Linked DNA regions of Homo sapiens. The protein of the gene in region 1 purifies or fractionates together with the protein of each later gene. This does not show direct contact. Each region holds a gene or a part of one and is shown in the gene's direction. Other genes may lie near its edges.

Region 1 (3,500 bases):
TGAGCCACCGTGCCCGGCCCTATGAGGAATATTTTGAAGAGACTGAAGCAAAATGTGATTTTCTTTCTTTCAGCCATTTTCATCTGAATGGCTAGGCCTTGACCTTCTAAAGCTTCCTCAGATCAATGAGAAAGGCCCCAGCCTGTCCAGACCCTTGGTGACTCAAGTTTGTACCTTCTTGCTGATGTGACCAACAATGGAACATAAGAAACTGCCTGGGGAGGGCAGAGTTGATGGGCAGGGGTGGGGAGGGCTAAAAGACCAGTGGTATAACACCCATTCCTTCTGACTGGGCTGCCCAAGCTCAGTGCAGTCACAAAGAATCACAGAACCCTCTGGTCTCAGTTTCAGAAGAGAGCCATGGATTGGGCTGTATCCTGGACATCATCCTTTAAGTTTATGAGCCTGCAAGGAGGACCTCAGAATGCGTGAGTGCCAAGCATCTGGCCCTCACTGAGCTTCCTTTGGAAAACACACAGATTCAGCTGAAAGGGAACCTGGCCCCCTAAAAACACACTTGAAGAGCAGTGAATGAATTGCAGAAATATCCCAAAGTCTCTGGCTACATGGCCAAATTCTGGGCATGGCCTAGGCCCCTGTGACTGTGGAAGTTCATTTAGTAAAAGCTGCAGCAGTCATCACGAAGCACTGTCACTGGAAGGGCAGACGTGGAGTCAGAATTGAAGGGTGCCAACTGTACTTGGCCCCCAGAAACAGTAATCCAGTGGAACTGAGTTTCCTTGCAGAAGCAAAGCCATCAGAGCCTGCAGGCACTGACTGATGTTGCCACGTTTAGTAGGTCCACATCTCTTTTTCCTAATATAATGAACACGAAAAAGATCACTCCAGCAACTTCCCCCAAATGATCTCAGTAATCCTGACAACACTATATGAGGGAAATCTGATCTTCCTTCTACAATCAGAAGAAACTGGGGGCTGGGAGAATGAAGAAGTCTGCCAAAAGTCAAACTGTGAGGCGGGTGAGAGGAGAAAGTGAGCTTGGAGTATGGGCATCCTGACCCCTGGTCCGAGGCTCTTGTCTTTATAATTACTTATTAAACTCGCAAAACAAAAATTGGTTACCTCAGACCGTGGGCCTGTGGCTCCCAGCTGGAGCCTCAACAGAGGTTGTGCCTGCTTGGGGTGCAGCTGGGGGTGCGGCCTGGTGACAGGCAGGTCTGTGATGTATATGCATGTCTGTGTCCCCAGGCCCATGGAGAGACTGCCTGCAGGCCCTGGAGGATGGCCACGACACCAGCTCCATCTACCTGGTGAAGCCGGAGAACACCAACCGCCTCATGCAGGTGTGGTGCGACCAGAGACACGACCCCGGGGGCTGGACCGTCATCCAGAGACGCCTGGATGGCTCTGTTAACTTCTTCAGGAACTGGGAGACGTACAAGGTGAGACTCGGCAGGGGATGTCTGTGCTGCCCACAAGGTGACTGGCCCACCCCAAGAGAGGCCTGAGCAACCAATAGAAGAGCCCACTCAGAGGTACATGCTGACCAAGCCCAGGCCTGTGCGGCCCCAACAACACATATACCTGAGGCGAGAAGGATGCAGACAGGGCCATTTTGCAAACCCACCAGGGGTAGTGAGGACCAGCGCCTCCTCTGCCTGCTGCTAGAAACTGCTGCAGGACAAGAGTCAGTAGACCAGACCACCACAGCCCCACAGGACAGGGTGAGAGTTTAGAAACGCTGGTATGGGGGCCCAGGGGTGAGGAGCATTTCACTCCCAAGTGGGGTTTCCATGGGGAAAGACCCGCTCTCAAAGCCCAGAAGGCGCAAGTCCCAAGAGGCTCCCAGTTCCTGGGAGAATCCCCCAAAAAGTCCTGGTAGGGAGTTGTGGCAATGCTCAAGTCCTAATTCCAGGCTCATCCTCTGGGCTCCCTGGTTCCCAGGGAGTTGAAATGCTCATCTGTGTAGCAGGGAAAGTTGCCAGGACTCAGTCATACATCGTTCTTCCCCCTCTAAACAGAGGTAGTACTAAGGAAGGCAAGAGTGGCTCTGTTTGCTGAGTGCCCAACCCGTGCCAGCACCATGCTAAGGGCTTTCGTGCATTATTTTGTTTAATCTCGTATCAACCTCCTGAGGGAGGTTCTGTTATGGACCCAGCTTACAGATGAAAGTGTGGAGTAATTTGCTCAGGGTTGCAAAGCCAGGAATTGGCCCAGTAGTGACTGCAGCTGAGGCCTCTGACACTGAAGCTCACAAACTACCTGAAGCCATGATGCCTTGCACACATGGCTCTGCCATGCCCCTTCTTGAGTCTCCTGTCCTGGTTGTCCCCCACCCCACCTCCTGAACAGCCTGTGTCTCTGCTTTTTTCTCCTCTTCCACCTACATTAGGAGCGGGAGACTCCTCCTTTCTTAGAGGCAATACAGTGCAATGATTAAGACTGGGTTCTTGGTTCAAATCCTGGTTCACCCTCAGGCATTCTGAGACCCTGAGCCTCTCTGGGCCTCAGTTCATCCATACTAGGGAGGATAATGATAGCACTTAGTTCTTCGAGTTGACATGAGGATTAGTAAAACAACCTATGTAAAGTTCTTAAAACAGTGCCAGCACATCACAAGCGCTCAATACTAAATAATTATTGTATTAATGAATCACCGATTCCCAAGACTTTAGTGGCCGTAACTCAGCTGCTGACCCCAAAACCACATGCAAAAAAAAACAATAACCACAAAACCACTGGGTTTTAGACCTAGAGGGGAGCGCCGGTGGATGGGACACATGCGTCACAGCTCACACCCGTCTGGTGCGTTACAGCTTACACGTGACCCTCACACACAGCTCATCTCCAGAGAAGGAGGTGAAGCTCAGTGAAGGTCAGAGATTTGTCTGAGGAATGCCTGCTGCGTGCCTACTTAGTGCCAGGCCCTCCACCTGCCACAGCACACGTGTTCCTGCAGCAAGCCTGTGGGGAAGGTAATATAGCCTCCCTGATGTAAGAACAAGGAATCTGGGGTTCACATGATGCCTGGCACAGGGTAGGCACTCTACATATTTTTGAATAATGTGTGAGTCATGGAGAGATTAAGAGGTGGAGTAGGGGTCTGAACCAGGTCTGCTTCATGCTCTGCTTGTTTCCCAGGCCCCTCTATCCAGGGCTGAGTGTCTGACAGCCAAGCCTGCTGGCTGCAGGTGCTGCAGGCTCCACATTAACACTCTCCTGGGTTTTCCCCAGCAAGGGTTTGGGAACATTGACGGCGAATACTGGCTGGGCCTGGAGAACATTTACTGGCTGACGAACCAAGGCAACTACAAACTCCTGGTGACCATGGAGGACTGGTCCGGCCGCAAAGTCTTTGCAGAATACGCCAGTTTCCGCCTGGAACCTGAGAGCGAGTATTATAAGCTGCGGCTGGGGCGCTACCATGGCAATGCGGGTGACTCCTTTACATGGCACAACGGCAAGCAGTTCACCACCCTGGACAGAGATCATGATGTCTACACAGGTAGGAAAAGTGGAGTCAAACCCAGGTGCAGGGT
Region 2 (3,500 bases), on another chromosome or scaffold:
TCACCATATTTCCAGGCTAGTCTCGAACTCCTGACCTCAGGTGATTCATCCTAAGGATTTAATGAAAGCTACTTATCCCTAGGGGGAAAATGCACCTATGCAAAGTAATATACAAGGTGATATGTACAAACAAAGGTTATTTTGTTAAGGAGGTTATATTGAGCTGAATGCTTCTCCCAAATAGTCCTGCGTCCTGCTTTTTCTGTCTGGCAGCATGAGTAGATCTGTTTCTTCTTTGACTGGACAACCCTTCAAATATGTGAAATATGTAATCATGTCTCTTTACATGGGATAAATATCCTTCATTCTATTAAGTGTTCTTGGTGCATTTTTTCCCCCATACTTATTTCTGTCTTTATCATCCTCTTTTGGACACACCATTGTCTGTCAGTGTCCACTAAAGTCTTGTCCAAACTAAACACATCTTGGCTGGGCACAGTGGCTCACACTTGTAATCCCAGCACTTTGGGAAGCCAAAGCAGAAGAATTGCTTGAGGCCAGGAGTTTGAGACCAGCCTGGGCAACATAGTGAGACAACTATCTCTACAAAAAAAATTTAAAAATTATCAGGCATGGTGGCACATGCCTGTAGTCCCAGCTACTCAAGAGGCTGAGGTGGCAGAATTATTTGAGCCCGAGATTCAGGCTGCAATGAACTGTAATCACACCTCTGCACTCCAACTTGGGCGACAGAGCAAGACCCTGTCTCAAAAAATGTAATAATAAGGAAAAACAACATGTCCCACATATTGTGTAGCCACTTAGGCACTATGTTTGTCAGGGCTGCCATAACAGACTAGGTGGATTAAACAACAGAAATGTATTTATTTTCTCAGTCTTGAAGGCTGAAAGTCAAAGAACAAGGTGGCAGCAAGGTTGGTCTCTTTTTGTTTGTTTGTTTGTTTTTTGAGGCAGAGTTTCGCTCTTGTTGCCCAGGCTAGAGTGCAATGACGCAATCTCTGCTCACTGCAGCCTCCGCCTCCCAGGCTCGAGTGATTCTCCTGCCTCAGCCTCTGGGTAGCTGGGATTACAGGTGTGCACCACCACATCCGGCTAATTTTTTTTTTTTTTGTATTTTTAGTAGAGGTGGGGTTTTGCCATGTTGGCCAGGCTGGTCTTGAACTCCTGACTTCATGTGATCGCCTGCCTCGGCCTCCCAAAGTGCTGGGATTACAGGCGTGAACCACCGCACCCGGCCTAAGGTTGGTCTCTTCTGAGGCTTTTCTCCTTGGCTTGCATAGGGCCACCTTCTCCCTGTTTTCTCACGTGGTCTTTCCTCTGTGTGTGGGAGTCCCTGGTGTCTCTTTGTGAATCCAAATTTCCTCTTATAAGGACACTAGTAAGATTGGATTACGGCTCACCCTAATGGCCTCAATTTAAATTAATCACTTCTTTAAAGGCCCTGTCTCCAAATACAGTCACATTCTGAGGTACTGGAGTTTAAGGTTTTAACATACAAATTTGGGGGCAGAGATTCTCCCCATAACTGGCTCCGTATCTTTGGGTTGCGGTAATGGGAATATGGAAGGACTTAACTTCTTTTTTTTTACTGTTCAGTGTAAAAATTAATACACAGGAATAAATCAGTTTTTTTTTTTTTCTTTTAGCCAAAATCTGAAGATGAAGAAGGCTGGAAGAAATTTTGTCTGGGTGAAAAGTTATGTGCTGACGGGGCTGTTGGACCAGCCACAAATGAAAGTCCTGGAATAGATTATGTACAAGTAAGGGCTGTGTGGATAAACAGAACAAAAAGCATTTTAATTTTGGTGCACCACTTAATATAAGGGGTCAGCAAACTCTACCCTGGGCCAAGTCCAGTTCATGGCCTTTTTTATATCCATGAGCTAAGGATTGTTTTTAGGTTTTGAAAGAGTAAAAAAGAAACAAATAATATGTGGCTGAGACTTTATGTGGCCTGCAAAGCCTAAAATATTTGCTGTCTGACTCTTGATAGAAAATGTTTGCCAACCCAGACTTAGTTTATTAGCTCTTCAACCTAACAAAACAGCTTAGTTTCTGAAACAATTTACTGTGACTTTTTTTAGTTTGGCTTCATATCCCTTATGTTTGGCTTGGTAATCATTTTATGAGTTGGATAAGATTCATAGTTTTTTTAAATGATGAGGCATCAGGCAAACAGTGTTATGAGTAGCCAGGGAAAAAATGGAAATCGACACAATTAGATGCTTTAAAATGCATAATCACATCTATCACTTCATGGGCCTGTAAAAAATAAATCACATATTCTAAAGATGAAATGTTGAGGATATCTTTAAAATTCATGTGGCTGTAATCATAAGTTATGTAGACAACTCCTTGTCCTTCAGGATTTACCTGCCCCCAAGTTTGCAGGTGTTCCTTGAGAATCCAGTGCATGCCTCTGCATTAGCGCTTACTCCCTATAGCATGTAGTTCTTTTCAGTTCAACAGGTATTTATTATTTGCTATATGGTGCCACATTGTGTTTTTCACATTTAAAACTAATTTTTCCTAAAAATGTAAAAAGCCCCAAGAATCAATAAAAAGACCAAGAATCACCCCTCCCCTGCCCAAGAAAAAATAGCCAAAGGATATAGATACCTCACAGAAAGGAAATAAAATTATTCTTATATGACAAGATGCCAAAAATCACTTGTAATAGAAGTATAACATAACTATGCCAAGGTGCTATTTTTCAGGTAACATATTGGCCAAGAAAGTTTGATACACCATATTGACAAGAGCTGGGGAAACAAGCACTCTTAGACGTGGTACAGGAGTATAAATAGACTCAAATCTTAGGGAAGTTAATTTGGTACTCTTTCTATATAACCAATTGATCTTTTGGATGATATCCTTAACATATGCTACATTTCAAAAATAGCTATATATATATATATATATATATTTTTTTTTTTTTTTTTTTTTTTTTTTTTTGAGACAGGGTCTTCTTCCGTCATCCAGGCTGGAGTGCAGTAGTGCACTCATAGCTCATTACAGCTTCAACCTCCTGGGCTCAAGCAATCCTCCCACGTCAGCCTTCAACATACCAGGGGCAGCAGGCACCCACCACCACACCCAGCTAATTTTTAAATTTTTTGTAGCGATAAGTTTTTTAATTTTTTAAAAAAATTTTTTTGTAGAGAGAAGTTTTCACCATGTTGCAAGGTTGGCCTGAAACTCCTGGGCTCAGGCAATCCTCCTGCTGGGATTATAGGCATGAGCTATCATGGCTAGCCAAAAATGGTTTTTAATTTATAAAGAATTAAAACTTACTTATTTAGCTTATTTTCAGAGAATACATACAAGTAAAATACACCATGTTAAAAAAAACCCTTAAGGAAGTAAGCGTTTAATGTATATCCTCTTAAGTTTCTCACAAATCAGTGGTATTTTCATAATTAGCAATCACAGCCTCAGACTCCAAAGTAGACTTTTAAAAATTGAATCAAATTAGGTTTTAAAAATGTCATTCTAATTCAAGTGTCCTTAATTCTTGAAAATATTAGCTTTAGCTGAAG

Evidence for each region. Proteins that work in one complex are often made in the same cells at the same time.
Region 2: the proteins of ANGPTL2 (region 1) and GEMIN2 purify together in Homo sapiens (co-immunoprecipitation; one large-scale study listed by IntAct). This does not show direct contact.

What each region holds. Positions count from the first base shown.
Region 1 is NC_000009.12:127,091,636-127,095,135, reverse strand, and holds part of ANGPTL2 (angiopoietin-related protein 2 precursor), read left to right. Parts: intron 1-1,209; coding exon 1,210-1,403; intron 1,404-3,195; coding exon 3,196-3,466; intron 3,467-3,500. UniProt on the Homo sapiens protein: Induces sprouting in endothelial cells through an autocrine and paracrine action.
Region 2 is NC_000014.9:39,120,823-39,124,322, forward strand, and holds part of GEMIN2 (gem-associated protein 2), read left to right. Parts: intron 1-1,607; coding exon 1,608-1,721; intron 1,722-3,500. UniProt on the Homo sapiens protein: The SMN complex catalyzes the assembly of small nuclear ribonucleoproteins (snRNPs), the building blocks of the spliceosome, and thereby plays an important role in the splicing of cellular pre-mRNAs.